Homo sapiens: one gene and its partner. The protein of the gene in region 2 purifies or fractionates together with the protein of the main gene of each other region. This does not show direct contact. Each region holds a gene or a part of one and is shown on either strand. Other genes may lie near its edges.

The links. Proteins that work in one complex are often made in the same cells at the same time.
Region 1: the proteins of CIAO3 (region 2) and WDFY1 purify together in Homo sapiens (affinity purification with mass spectrometry; 2 studies listed by BioGRID and IntAct, with this or other methods). This does not show direct contact.

Annotation. Positions count from the first base shown.
Region 1 is NC_000002.12:223,942,156-223,950,163, reverse strand, and holds the start of WDFY1 (WD repeat and FYVE domain-containing protein 1), read left to right. Parts: upstream 1-4,828; 5' UTR 4,829-4,879; coding exon 4,880-5,016; intron 5,017-5,608; exon of another isoform or gene 5,609-5,685; intron 5,686-5,756; exon of another isoform or gene 5,757-6,940; intron 6,941-8,008. UniProt on the Homo sapiens protein: Positively regulates TLR3- and TLR4-mediated signaling pathways by bridging the interaction between TLR3 or TLR4 and TICAM1.
Region 2 is NC_000016.10:730,990-738,197, forward strand, and holds part of CIAO3 (cytosolic iron-sulfur assembly component 3), read right to left. Parts: intron 6,341-7,208; coding exon 6,197-6,340; intron 5,410-6,196; coding exon 5,277-5,409; intron 3,883-5,276; coding exon 3,748-3,882; intron 3,359-3,747; coding exon 3,240-3,358; intron 2,439-3,239; coding exon 2,309-2,438; intron 1,385-2,308; coding exon 1,312-1,384; intron 714-1,311; coding exon 576-713; intron 12-575; coding exon 1-11.

The DNA of each region.
Region 1 (8,008 bases), on a different chromosome or scaffold from region 2:
TGGCCAACATGGTAAAACCCCACATCTGCTAAAAATACAAAAATTACCAGGGCATGATCGGCACACACCTGTAGTTCTAGCTACTCAGGAGGCTGAGGCACAAGAGTTGCTTGAACCGGGGAGGCAGAGGTTGCAGTGAGCTGAGATCCCAGCAGTACACTGAAGTCTGGGTGACAGAGTAGTAACACTCTGTCTCAAGAAAAAAAAAAAAAAGGTAAACCAAGGCACAATAATATTTTAAAGGGCTTATTTGTGTAAACAGCAATTCATGAATCGGACAGCTCTAAACCGGAAGTGTTTCCAGGGCTCTGTTGGAGAAGCATAAGGGTCAAACTTGGAAGAGTGAATGCAGAAATAATGCAAAGAAAATAATTGATTACAGTTATAAAGTGGCTTTATTTGGTCTATCCTGTGGGAAAATCCCTAGTTATTTAATTGTAAGTCTGTTGACTGCTTCTGAATGGTTGAGCTTAAGTTTTGTTTTTCTTTAATACAGGCATTTACAAGAAATAGTTCAAGTTAAGTTTCACTTATGTTTGCAAATCAAGCAAGGTTAAGATCACTTAGGAGGACTGACTGGCTTTGTCTCTTCGGGGAGTCTTCAGCCCTGGTTTCCATTTTAATTTAGTTTAACAGGCGAATCCCTGATTAAAATTTTTGAACAAGTATTTGTAGAGGGCCTTTCTCTCACTTAGTTTTGACCATCCTGCTGCCTTAAGATCAAGCATAAACTTGGCTCCTGAACTCTACCACCACCCAGTGAGCATCTGCTGACCCTGCAGAGGGTGGCACAGCAGGTTCCATCACTGTGCATTTAACTCCCAGAGTAATGGCTGCAGTCCAGACCTCTCTACTATTCAGTAGCATATACAAAACTCCTATATTCAGGCTGGTCATGGTGGCTCACGCCTGTAATCCCAGCACCTTGGGAGGCTGAGGCAGGTGGATCACCTGAGGTCAGGAGTTCGAAACCAGCCTGGCCAACATGGCAAAACCCCGTCTCTACTAAAAATACAAAAATTAGTCAGGCATAGTGGCACACGCCTGTAATCCCGGCTGCTGGGGAGGCTGAGACAGGATAATTGCTTCAACCAAGGAGGTGGAGGTTGCAGTGAGCCAAGATCGCACCACTGCACTCCAGCCTGGGCAACAGAGCAAGACTCCATCTCAAAAAAAAAACAAAAAAAACAAAAACAAACAAACAAACAAACAAAAACCTCCTGTATTCAACTGCCTACTCAGCCCCTTCACTTGGAGACCTAATACTCGTCTCAAGCTTCCTATGTCCAAAACTGAATTCTCCTTCTTCCCTTCCAAACCTGCTCCTCCTACATTTTCCACAGATCAGTAACTGGCAGCTCCACTTTTCCAGTTGCTCAGCCCACAAATCTTGGTATCATTCTTAACTATCTCATATTCAATATTCAACAAATTTCACTGGTACTACCTTCTACATAAGTCTAGAATCTGATGTCCTCTCACCACCAGCACCCTTAGAAAGCCACATCATTTCTCAATTACCCTGTTAATTTCTCAAATAACTTCCTGACTGACACCTTGCTTCTATTCTTGCCTTTTAAAATTGAAGGCAGATTAGCCCAGGCGCAGTGGCTCATGCCTATAATAATCCCAGCACTTTGGGAGGCCAAAGTGGGTGGATCACCTGGGGTTGGGAGTTCGAAACCAGCTTGGCCAACATGGTGACACCCTCTCTACTAAAAGTACAAAAATTAGCTGGGTGTGGTGGCACGTGCCTGTAGTCCCAGCTACTTGAGAAGCTGAGGCACGAGAATCACTTGAACCCAGGAGGTGGAGGTTGCAGTGAGCCAGGATCGCACCACTGCACTCCAGCCTGGACGACAGAGTGAGACTTCGTCTCGAAAAATAAATGAATACAAATTTAAAAACTTGAAGGCAGATTAAACCAGCCTTCTGTTCGAAACTCTCCAATGGCTTCCTATCTCATTTGAAGTAAAAACCAAAGCCCTTATCAATGGTCTCTGGGCTCAACATGGTCTGTCTGGTGACCTGTCTGTGCTGTTTTTCTCTGAGCACTCCCTCACTCACTCTGCTCCAGCCTCACGGGGTGCCTGGCTGTCTCTACAAAACCCCTGGCATGTGCTCACCTCAATGCCTTAACACGTGCTCTTTTCTTTTCCAGAAAAGTATTTGGCCCACATTTCCACATGGCTTACTCCCTCCTCTCCTTCTTGGCTCAAAATGTAACTTTACAATGAGGCTTTTACTTGTCTCAGGTTGCATTCTCCAGCAGCAGATACGGTGATAGAGGTTGGCTCAGAGGGTGTTTATTAGGAATCAATGCCTGTGAAGGGAGGGGGAGGTACCAGGATTAGGCAGGAGAAGTCAGCTGCAGTACACGCCTTACAAAGCCTTGTCCAATCTAGGAGAGAGTTCTAGAGCAAGTGTTGCTCATCGGTCTGTCTTGATGGTCAGGCCTTTATCCTCCTATCTTGTTCAGTTACTGAATGTGGGCTTCCCTGTGAAGGGAACAACTGAGACCCAGTGGTTCTCAGCAGCTGGGGCAGTCCCTGAAGGAGCTGAAGGCTAGAGGCTCTCTGCTGACCACTGTTCTTCCCTGAAAGCAGATCTGTGCAGTGTATTCCTGAATCTATCACACCATCTATTTAAAATCGCAACATCCCCTAGAGTCCCTATCACCCTTCCCTGCTTTATTTTCTCCATAGCATTTAATAGCATTGAACATCTTCTAATATATTATATAATTTAGTTTACTATCTGTTTCCTTCACTGGGATGTAAGTTCTAACAGCAGAGGGATTTTTGTCTCTCTTGAGCACTGCTGCATTTAGAATGGCACCTGGCTCACAGCAGGCACTTGGGAGATGTTGGTTGATTAAACAAAGTTGTTCAGTAGCGTGTCTAGTCATTACACTGTACAGCCTCACAAAAACCATGTCTTATTAATCTCATCAGCAACAGCATATAGTAAGTGTGCGATATATGTCTGTTGAATATAGGAATAAATAAATTCATGAATGTTTGTTAATAACTTCATCATGAGAAAGTATTAGTACAATGGTGGCTCCTGCCCGTAATCCCAGCATTTTGGGAGGCTGAGGTGGGCAGATGATTTGAGGGCAGAAGTTTGAGACCAGCCTGGTCAACATGGTGAAACCCTGTCTCTAGTAAAAATACAAAATTAGCCAGGCATGGTGGTAGGTGCTTGTAATCCCAGCTACTCGGGAAGCTGAGACAGGTGAATCCCTTTAACCTGGGAGGCGGAGGTTGCCGTAAACCGAGATCGCACCACTGCACTCCAGCCTGGGTGACGGAGTGAGTTCGTCTCAAAAAACTAAAACAAAACAAAACAAAAACAAAAAGAAAGTTCTAGTAAATCACTGTACATAGAAGTACCATCTGATTCACATCCATAATTTAAAGTTTTTATTAGCTACCTTAAAAAAATAAGCAGGTCATATTAATTTTAATAGTATCTAACTCAATATATCCAAAATAGTATCATTTCAACATGTAATCATTGTAACAATTATTGATGAACTATATTACATCTTTTTTGTTTTGTGCTAAGTCTATAAAATCTTGTAGTATTTTGCACTTGTACTACATCTCAGTTTGGACAAGCCACATTTCAAGTGCTCTATAGTCATGTGGATAGTACGGTTCTAATGCAATTCTGCAATTCAGGTGTCAGAATAATATAGTGGGGCAGAAGTTTGGAGTCATTGACTTCCTGAGTCCAAATTTTGGCTCTTGAACTTACTGGTTGTCAATGACCTCTAGCCAAAAACCACCAGGAACAAATGGGGTTGATTGCTTGTTGGAGGGAGAAGACACACCATTGGGAATGGTGAGGTGTCTGGGTAAAGGGATGTTCGGACAGTTTTATTATAGGATTTGTGTTTGTGTTAGGTGACCTGGGAGAGCTTAAGGAAGAGAGGCTCTCCTGTGGACTGGATGTTGTCAGGAAATGCGTATAATTCTAAGGTTGCATATCTTAATAAATCTTATCTAAATGGAGGAAGACTAGATAGCGGTTAACATTATAATTAATAAAGAAATAAGAGTCACTCATATTAGCCAGGATAGGGGGATGTTTGGTAATTTCTGTGGCTTGTACATCGCTCATATTTTGGCCGTGTTTAGATGTGATTATGGAGTGGCCTCGTCTGATGTTTATGTTCCACAGGAAGCAAACACTTCCTAGCAACACCAAAGCTCAGCTGATAGTACCAGGCAGCTCCTGGAGATCAAGGGCTGCTTTTCTCCCTCTCATAGCTGTGCAACCTTAAGGTAGTGATCAAACTTCTCTGGTTGTTTTCTCATCTCTAAAATGGGAATACAAGAGCATCTATTTCATCTCTTAAAATTATCAGTATTAAATGAGATGCAAAGACACTGAGTTAATGCCTGGTATATGGTCACCACTCAGTGCTATCTATTGTAGTTCAAAGATTCTAAGATGCACTATATTTTTTCACATTTTAACATTTCTGAAAGTGTGTGCCTTTCAAACAATGGCTTCTTCAAATGGATGAAATGTAGTATTGTAATTTCTGAAATCTCTGGTTTGGGGGACAATTCCTTGTCCCCTCCAGGTGCTCAATTTATTCCTGGGTGAATGGCTTTACTTTTAAACCTTCCTTACTTTCCCCATTTCTCCGCAGGCGCCCCGTGGCATCCTCTCCCAGCCACAGACTTTCAGCTTGCGCGGCATCCCCAGGCAATACGGGCGGTGCGGCGGCAGCACTCGGGGGCTTACGGCGGCGCGGCGCCCAAGAGGCCCCAGCAGCCGAAGGGAAACCGGCGCGTCCCCCGCCCGCCCAGGCGTCAGCTGATGGGCTGCCTGCCGAGGAGGCCGCAGCAGTCGCCGCGCGAACATGGCGGCCGAAATCCACTCCAGGCCGCAGAGCAGCCGCCCGGTGCTGCTGAGCAAGATCGAGGGGCACCAGGACGCCGTCACGGCCGCGCTGCTCATCCCCAAGGAGGACGGCGTGATCACGGCCAGCGAGGACAGGTAGGGCCCGGGCGCAGCCGGGGCGGCCCGAACTCCGCGACGACGGGGTGTGGGGGCGGTGGGGTCCGCGGCCCCGGTCCTTCCTGCGTGAGGGGGCTCCCCCGGCAGCACGGCCCCACCCCCACTCTGCGCCCCTTAGCTCCGCCGGGTTCCCGGTTCCCTCCCGCCGGTCCTCCAGCCTCGACTTGCACCTTTCCAGCCTGGGACCCCGGTCTCGCCGCGCCCCTCCAGCCCGGATCCCCTGTCCCACCGCGCCCCTCCAGCCCGGGAACTCCGTCTCACCGCGCCGCCCAAGCCCGGGACCCTTGTTCCAACGTGTCTTTCCAGCCCAGGACCCCTGTTCCAGTGCGCCCTACCGCGCCCCTCCCAGCCCACCTCGCCCCTCCTGCTCAGGACCCCTGTTCCAATGCTCCCCAACGCGCCCCTCCAGTCCGGGACCCTTGTCCCACTGCGCCCGTCCATCCCGGGAGCTCCGTCCCACCGCGCCCCTCTAGCCCGGATCTTCTGTCCCACTGCGCCCCTCCAGCCCGGGAACTCTGTCCCACCGCGCCACTCAAGCCCGGGACCCCGGTTCCAGTGCGCCCCAACGCACCTCTCCAGCCCAGGACCTCTGTCTCACCGCGCCCCTCCAGCGCGGGAACTCTGTCTCACCGCGCTGCTCAAGCCGGGGACCCCTGTTCCAGTGCGCACCAACGCGCCCCTCCCAGCCCACCGCGCTCCTCCAACCAGGGAACCCCGACCTGCGGTGTCGCACTAGCCTGGGACCTTCGTCCCGGTCTCTCTCCCTGGCGGGGTTTAGCCTGGTACTCGGAAGGTGTTTCTTGGCCCTCCCGGGTCAGTTCCAAATCGTCTCCTCTGGAAGCGTGGAGGACCGGCGGCTGGTCACTGCGGACCCTGGTGCCCGGGGCTTGCTTCTTTGCGAGGAACTCCAGCCGCCTTCGCTCTCTTCCTCCCCCTGTACTCAGGGATTTCACGCCACGCCAGGCCTCTAGATCAGTTATTTTTGCCACGGCTGCTAGAATCACCTGAACTCTTATTTACTAAATAGGTTTTTGTGAAAGTGACTCATTTTTAAAAATATTTGGATGCATTTATTTTAAAAGGAAATCTTATTTATTAGGAAAACTAACATTACTCACCAGACAGAGTAAACTAATAACTAAAACATGTTAATTGGCATGCACACAGAGTCCTCTCTTGCACTGTGACATCTTGCATTGGACGCCCACCATGCTTTTGGGAAACACTGATTGGGTCCAGTTTTCTCATTTCTCCTAAGAGGAAGCCGAGGCTGGTGGAGGTGTAGCTTGCTGCTAAGTTACAGAGATACTGGTGAAGCCGGAAATGCAATCCAGAACTCCCACCAGCTCTGGGCCTGAGTGATTGGATTGGAACAGTATTTATGATTCGACTTTAAACTTTAGCGTCTTTCAAATCCTAAAGGTTTACAATGTCAGTAGCTTTCCGGTGGGAATTTGAAGGAAATGACTGATGTTTATTGAATGAAACTGTGTTTCCTTGATGCAATGAGCCGTCTTAAATAGGGATAGTCCACAAGTCCAAAAGCTTTCTGGAGGATGGAAGGTACTGCTATTCTCTTAAAGCTGAAGGCGTGGTCTCTAGCCTTTTGTAATTATACCTTTTGAAGTGACATTGACCCTATCCTGAATGGGAAGAAAAAGCCTGAAGCCCCCAACTCCTGTTGGTCCTTTGGATTTTGCTTTTGAGTGAGCTTGTGCCTTTTTCCTCAATTAGATAATGAGCTGATTGTGAGCAGGCAGTGGCCTCTCCCTGCTGGTTCACCTGTAGCTGACTTCCAACAAGGAGGGGAGTGATTGGCAGGACCTGGCTGTGGGTCTGTAAAGCAGAAAGGAGTGAGAGAGATCGAGTGCATGAGACCTGGGGAGAAGGTGGGGACCTGAAAAAGGCAAGGACAGAATAATGACTTTTTTTTTTTTTTTTTAAGATGGAGGCTTGCTCTGTCACCCAGGCTGGATGGAGTGCAGTGGCATCATCTTGGCTCACTGCAACCTCCGCCTCCCAGGTTCAAGCGATTCTCCTGCCTCAACCTCCTGAGTAGCTGGGACTATAGGCGCCTGCCACCACGCCCAGCTAATTTTTCTATTTTTAGTAGAGACAGGGTTTCACCATGTTGGTCAGGATGGTCTCGATCTCCTGACCTCGTGATCCACCCGCCTTGGCCTCCCGAAGTGTTGGGATTACAAGCATGATCCACTGGTGTCCGGCCAGAATAATGACTCTTGCATGATGTGAACGTAGATGCAGACAACACTCTTTAAAAGTTAGCCTTTGGGCCGGGCGCGGTGGCTCACGCCTGTAATCCCAGCACTTTGGGAGGCCGAGGCGGGTGGATCATGAGGTCAGGAGATCGAGACCATCCTGGCTAACAAGGTGAAACCCCGTCTCTACTAAAAATACAAAAAATTAGCCGGGCGCGGTGGCGGGCGCCTGTAGTCCCAGCTACTGGGGAGGCTGAGGCAGGAGAATGGCGTGAACCCGGGAAGCGGAGCTTGCAGTGAGCCGAGATTGCGCCACTGCAGTCCGCAGTCCGGCCTGGGCGACAGAGCGAGACTCCGTCTCAAAAAAAAAAAAAAAAAAAGTTAGCCTTTGGCCAGGCGCAGTGGCTCATGCCTGTAATCCCAGCACTTTGGGAGGCCGAGGCGGGTGGATAACAAGGTCAGGAGGTCGAGACCATCCTGGCTAACACGGCGAAACCCAGTCTCTACTAAAAATTCAAAAATTAGCCAGGTGTGGTGGCAGGCGCCTGTAGTCCCAGCTACTCGGGAAGCTGAGGCAGGAGAATGGCGTGAACCTGGGAGGCAGAGCTTGCAGTGAGCCAAGATTGTGCCACTGCACTCCAGCCTGGGCGATAGAGCCAGACTCCGTATCAAAAAAAAAAAAAAGTTAGCAGCCTTTATTCGGTCAAATATTTTATTCATGAATCATGCGTTTTGGGTAAGTTGCTAAATAT
Region 2 (7,208 bases):
AGTCTTTGTTCCTGGGGGGCACAGGCGGGGTTTGTCTACATGGCACACCCACCAGGCTCCTGCCTGCCTGGAAGGGGAGGCCTGCTGGGCTTCAGGGGATGACCGGGTACCTCCCAGGGCTCTCTCCCTCTCTCCTGGGCAGAGGGAAGGACAAGAACGGAGAGAGAGGGTGGAAGGCTCACTTCCTTGAGTCCAGCAGGGGACCTCACCTCCAGCCTCGGGCTGTCTGTGAAACAGGCCTCCCTCCCCAGGGATGTCTGTGAGGCCCTGGCCCTCCCTCCTGGGATGTGGTCGCGTGCCTGCGCCAGGCACCCATCACCTTTGCCCATGCTGGCCTCTCGGGCTCAGGGTCACCATCCCCCACAATGGGCCGACTGAGGCCTGGAGTGCTTAGGTGCCTTCACACCCTGAGCCCGCCAGGAGGGCCCTGCCTGGCCCCAGGGTCCCCTCCAAACCCTGCAGGCTGCCCTCCACCCAGCCCACCTCTGTGGGAGGACCCCAGGGGAGGCAGCAGCCCGAGGAAGGCTGGGGGCTGTGTGGCCGCTCTGCCCAGAGATCTGGCCCATCCCACTGACCTCAGGGGTTTGTAGGTAACCTCAGCCACATGGATTCCAAAGAGCTCTCGGGCCGCGTGCCGGAACACGTGCTCCAGGTAGCCCCCCGAGCCCCCTCCCCGATGGCTGGTGGGCTCCTCTGCAGAGGCACCGCTGCACCTGGCAAGGAGGGAGGGGCCTCAGCACAGCTGGGGCTGCTGCCTGCCAACCTCCCGAGCAGGGCCTCTGTCCCTCACACATGAGCGTTTGCATTTCCAGGTGGGAGACAAGTCACAGACACAGAGGAACAGCTCCTGTGTCACCAGCCATCACAGGGGCCCAGCCACTTCTTGTTTTTTTTTTTGAGACGGAGTCTTGCTCTGTCGCCCAGGCTGGAGTGCAGTGGCGTGATCTTGGCTCACTGCAAGCTCCGCCTCCTGGGTTCAAGCAATTCTCATGCCTCAACCTCCCAAGTAGCTGGGATTACAGGGCCTGGCATGGATTACCACCATGTCTGGCTAAATTTTGTATTTTTAGTAGAGATGAGGTTTCACCATGTTGGCCGAGCTGGTCTCGAACTCCTGACCTCAGGTGATCTGCCCACCTTGGCCTCCCAAAGTGCTGGGGTGACAGGCGTGAGCTACTGCGCCTGGCTATCCAGCCACTTCTGTGGACGCCAAGATGGGCTGCGGGGAGGCAAGCCCAGAGCAGGGGGATGCTATCCTCAGAGGCAGCGTTAGAAGCTAAAATAACAGTTCTTGGTGGCAGACATACGTACAGGCTGTCCAGAGGGGCTGGTTCCAGGTCGGGGAGGGAGACGCCCTCTTCCTCCAGCAACCTGAAAACTTCTCCTGCAAAGAAGCCACAGCGCAGACACTCTTTAGCGGAGATCCCAGCAACAAAGTCAGAGAACATCCAAGCCACCTGCATCCCCAGCAGTCTGCACTTTGGCCCCAGAAGGCCCCAAATGTCCACCCTAGCCCGTGGTGGGGAGGCCAGGCCCGGTCACTCCTGAAGCCCCTCTGGAGGCTGCCTGGTCCTGCCCAGGGAGGTGTGCCAGCGGCCAGGCCACTCTGCTCACCCAGTGTCCATCTGTCCATCCTCTTAGGCAGTCTGCTTTTCTTTTTTTTTTGAGACGGAGTCTCACTCTGCCGCCCAGGCTGGAGTGCAATGGTACGATCTCGGCTCACTACGACCTCTGCCCCCCGGGATCAAGTGACTCTCCTGCCTCAGCCTCCCGAGTAGCTGGGATTACAGGAGCACCACCACTACTCCCGGCTAATTTTCGTATTTTTAGTAGACATGGGGTTTCATCATCTCGGCCAGGCTGGTCTTGAACTCCTGACCTCGTGATCCACCCACCTCTGCCTCCCAAAGTGCTGGGATTACAGGCGTGAGCCACCATGCCCGGCCACAGTTTGCTTTTCTGCCTCACATTTGGGAGACTGTGGGGCTGCTCGACTCAGGAATGGGGTGACTCATGGGAGCTGAAGAGGCTGCATTCGAGAATCTCTGCCCACCTCCAAAGACTCATTTCAGAGCCAACAAGGAGGTATTACTGAGCGCCACCTGGCTGCAGGTCCCCAAGACAGGCCAGCTGCAAATGGGCCCACCTGGCTCCAAGGGGAGAGACGAAGGTACGTGCACGCATGCGAGCCCCCACACTCCAGCCAGGGCCCCCACAGGCAGGATCCTGGGCAGTCGCCACCTGTGCCCAGGGCTCAGGAATCAGACCAGGAGGCTTGAGGGCTCAGGGCCGCACGGCGTGACCGCACCTGTTGTGAGGACACAGTCCACATCCCGTGTCTGGTGCTCCTGGTTGAAAAAGTCGGGTCTGGAGGCTTCCAGCTTTTTGTCATAGCAGGGCATCACTGTGACGTGGTAGATCTTGTCAGGGGTCAAGTGCTACAAGGAGAAACAAACACTTGTCTCCCCAATCCCAGCAGTAAGGTGGCTGAGACGGGACCTGGAACTCAGCCATCCTGCAGCCAGGCCGGACCCCGAGGGACAGTGAGCCTCACTCCATTTCCCAGCAAGCCTCCTGCCGGCTCTGCGGATGTGTCCCTGGACAGGACGGGCCCTGGCTGTGACAGAAAATGACACTGACCCATTCCCAGTGTGCCTGCGCTCCCTAACAGCCAAGTCCAGCGGAGGAGAAGTGGCCTTCCCACGGCTCGGGCCGTCTCACTGCACAGCAGCCGGGGAAACGGATGTCACGGGGGAACCAACCAGCTCCAGCCCCGGGTGAAAATCCGCGTGCAGTCAGGCAAGAGGTGCCGCAGGGGACATGGGCGCTCGAGGCCCAGGCACCACCGGGGCCGCCCTCGCCCTCTCCCGCCCCCTGCTGGCTGAGTGTCTTCAGGCTTCTATCCCGCTGGGCCTCAGGTGGGGGTCGTGCTGGGCATCCTCGTGGACCTGGTGGCCGGAGGGGTGGGCTCCAGGCCCGGACTGCCCAGGGCCTCCTGCTCCCTCAGCCTCAGGCCTGGCTGCCTCTGGGTGAGCAGTGAGCACCTCTGGATCAGAACGAAGCCCTCTGCTGCAGAAGAGGAAGGGCCTGAACCAGGAGGGAACAAGGGTGGAGGTGTGCTGGGGAAGGCCGCACAGCACAGCGAGGACTCTGTTTCCTGCAGCCTCATGGCAAGAGGCCAGCAAAGTCACTTCTGGCCGCTCCCCAGCCTGAGTCTGGGGCTGGCCCAACGCCGTTACCTGCTGCTGGGCGAAGAAGTCCTTGACCAGGGAGCCCATGACCTGCTGCGGGGACCGGGCGGTGCTGATGTGGGGGAGGATGAAGCTGCCGTGAGTCTTCTCGGCATAGCAGATCCAGCCTGAGGTGACAGGGGGCACACGGGGCTGGCGGGGGCGCACGGCGGCCCCCGCACCCACAGGCAGCAGCACGACATTCTGGGGGCGGGCCCGCTCATACAGGAGATCATGATGACATTAAAGAGTGCTCATTCCTGTTCTCCCCACCACCACGCGGAGCTCGGCGTGCAGGCGACACCGCCTAGGGACCTGAGGTGACTGCGCGTGGCTCCCACGGGAGGGCAGCCTCTTCTCCAGAAAAGGCCATTTGTGCCAACATTTCCAACCCGTCCCGCAAAACCTGCTTGCGTCTCCACCCCCCATGCCCCCGCCTTGTCATTTGTGTCCATATCACCTCACGTTTCAACTGCACTTGAACTTGACTCTCCCACCACCCGCACCATGAGCACACCTGGGCAGGCAGAGGCCAGCAGGGGCAGCGCCTGTCTGCAGTCGGCCTGTCCTCGGAATCGCCGCACAAACTCTCGCTGGCTCTCCAGGAGGCTGAAGTGCCTTGAGAAGGCGGTGTCGAAGACGAAGTGCACCCCTGGAAGGTGAAGGTGGGTGCCTGGTTAACCCCATGCGGGACGCCCACACGAGCACACGCCGGCGTGTGGACCACCATGGTGCTGCCAGGGCACGTGTGTCGCACCTGCTTGCCGTGCCAAAGCCCCGGCCCCACCGTGGGGACCTCCTAAAGCCACGTTGCGCCAAAGCCCCAGCCCCACTGTGGGGACCTCCTAAAGCCACGTTGCCTCGGCATCCCCTGTGAACCCAGGCCTTGGTTTCCCACCCCAGAGGCAGCCACCCAGCAGCTCAGTCCTCCACCCTCCCAGCTCTTCAGCGTGGCTGGTCCAGGGAATTGCCACGTGCGCTGCTCCCGGTGACCCTCCCTAGGGCACAGCTGGACGCAGCCTGCTGGACTGGCCCCTCGGACCCTGACTGTGCAGACCTACCATAGTGGCCACCCCTCACACACAGCAGGACTCCTGGAACACGCCAGCCAGCTCCAAGCCCAGCCATTAGAACTGCTCAGTAAACCTGCCTGATCGTGCCCTGGACCCAGCAGAGGCACCCGCGTGTGGGTCCCTCTCTCTCTGCCTGACTTGTCATTCCTCCCTCGCGTAACCCGTGGTCGGAGGACTCGCTGTGCCCCACTTGCCCGTCATCATCATCTCTAAGTAAAAATCTTTGAACTTGCTTCCTATTCTGGTGGGGACGAAATCCACACCTTCCATCTGGAGAACCATGGGCTGCCCCAGGCCAGGTTTTCCCTGGGACACCAGGTCAGGCTCCCAGTGCCAGAGCACTGCTCAGGCACCAACTGGATATGGGTCAGACAGGAGCCATGGGGCACCTGCCAGTGTCACCAGGTTTCCAGTGTGAGGGACCTGGGACACAGCTGGATGACAGGCAGTCTGCTGGTTACAAGGCGCACAGGCCTGCCTCACTGGGAATGAAGGGACTGGACATGGTGGTTACCTGTGAAAGGCACACAGTAACCATGAGGTCCAGCCCCTTCATTCCCAGTGAGACACCAGGCACTGGAGCCTAGTTAGCTGGGGGCTCTCAAGACACCCAGATCCTCCCCAAGCCCAGCTCCAGGCACATAACCAAAGTCAGCAGAAGCTGACCTTGGCTGAACCCAACAGAGCCCCGGAGAGAGTGCCTTAATATTATCAGCTAAAAAGTACAAGGAGTTGGTCAGCCCCAGCTTAGAGAAAGTGCACAGTCAGAATGCAGACGTGTTCTGTGAGAAGGCCCTGCTCTCAAATGTCAAATCAAAACTTCAGGCTGAGGTCACAGAGGGAATAAAGTTTCTGTAGCGCTGAAGTTCAGGGCTGGGTAGCGTGTCAGTGACTCAGAGGCGCGAGGGGCCTGGGCTTACTCAGACGCCCCCTTGATTTGGAGCGGCAGTGTTACCCCAGGTTCAAAGCCTACCTATTTTTTTAAAGAATGAGGTTAATTTCCTGGCAGTATCTGTAGGATTCAGCTGAAACCGTGCAGCCAGCGATGCTCTAGACTGTGGTGAGACCGAAACTACAACCAGCCTCTGCTGACTGGGTGCCGCCATCTGCAAAGCAAGGGGAAGACGCTGCTTACTCTGCTGGCCTTATGCTGATTCCTGGTGGCCAGAGCCGCACGGTGAGATGCTGTCAGCTGTGGAGAGGGCAGGCCAGCTCCATCAAGAGTCTTTTTTTTTTTTTTAACACAGAGTCTCACTCTGTTGCCCAGGCTGGAGTGCAGTGGTGCGATCGGAGCTCACTGCATGCAACCTCCGCCTCCCAGGTTCAGCCTCCTGGGTAGATGGGATTACAGGCGTGAACCACCGTGCCTGGCCAAGGGTATCGTTTTTTTTTGATGGAGTCTCACTCTATCACCAGGCTGGTGTGTAATGGCGCAATCTCGGCTCACTGCAACCTCTGTCTCCTGGGTTCAAGCGATTCTCCTGCCTCAGCCTCTCTAGTAGCTTGGATTACAGGCATGTGCCACCACACCTGGCTAATTCTTGTATTTTTAGTAGAGACGGGGTTTCACCATGTTGGCCACGGTGGTCTCGAACTCCTGACCTCAGGTGATCCACCCGGCTCAGCCTCCCAAAGTGCTGGTATGACAGGCGTGAGCCCCCGCGCCCAGTAGGGGTGTCATTTTGATGTATATTTAGAACCTGAAGTTTGGGGCCTGACACGTTCACCACTGGAGCCCACTGACAAATCACCAAGATTCCAAGCCTCAAAAAGGCAGGCGCCACCCGCACGACGGACGTCGGCACCACACGAGCTGCCCTTGGCAAAACGCGTTGTCGGCTGCTGGGATGGATTTCAGGTTAAAGCAGAGTCACCAGGCCGACCACTGCTTACCTTGTTAGCATCTAGAACCTTCTTCAGCTCCTCGTGGCTCTGCTGGGTGATAAGCACGGTCTCTGCGGAGGTGATGCAGCCGCTGCACGCCAGGCAGTCGTTTAGCGAGACCTTGGCCTTCTCCAGCCTCCGGGTCCCGCCGTCCTACAAGGGAGAAGAACCCGGTGCACAGGGGCCCCCTCTGCACGAGGACATGGAGACAGAGGATAGTGGAGTCCAGCTCATAACCGACAACCAACATGGCTGCTGGCTGGGCTTGTGTGCCGCTGAATTTTTAAAAATTAGGTATGTATTACAAAAATGCACACGCACGCTCTACAGTTTCATAATGCCGTCAAGTCTGCTTCTTGGTACCACTTGGTTAGTGCATCCGAATCACAGGACTAAGGCTTGCCACTGGTATCTCAGCAAAGCAGCAGCCACCCCACTCACCCATGGGGCCCTGGACGGGGTGCTGGCCCCGGTGCACACTCACAGGGCTGTAGGGCAGGAAAATGCCGAAGGTGGGCTCTGAAAGGAGGAGGCGGGAAAGCTGAGGACAAAGGAGGAAAGGACGAAGGCACAGGAAGAGGAGAGCAGAGGGAGGAAGCCTGGGAGCCTGGCCTCCGGTGGGCGGGGCAGAAACAACCGTCAGACTCGCCAAACAGATGCAGGAACAAGGTGTTCCAGTCGGGGGCCTCCGGGACATGCCTCAGCAACTTTTCTTACATGCAAAACGCACCCAGCTCGAGCTCCCCCAACTTCTCCTGCAAAGGCAGGAATGGTTTGAGCAGGGCCAGGGGTGCTGCAGTGGCCCGGAATACAGCCAGAGGAGTAAGGCGACTGGGTGGGAACTGTGTGGGAACCCCTCGCAGCCCAGCTCTCTGCTAGGCCTGTGTATCACAATCTGAGCTCGCCTTGTATTCCTACGTTGGTTCTGCCCCAAGGCACAAAGCCTTGCCTGCCACAGGGTGCTGGGCAGAGGCTGACAGGCTCCTCCAAACCAACTGCCACTGCACCGACAGCCACGCCT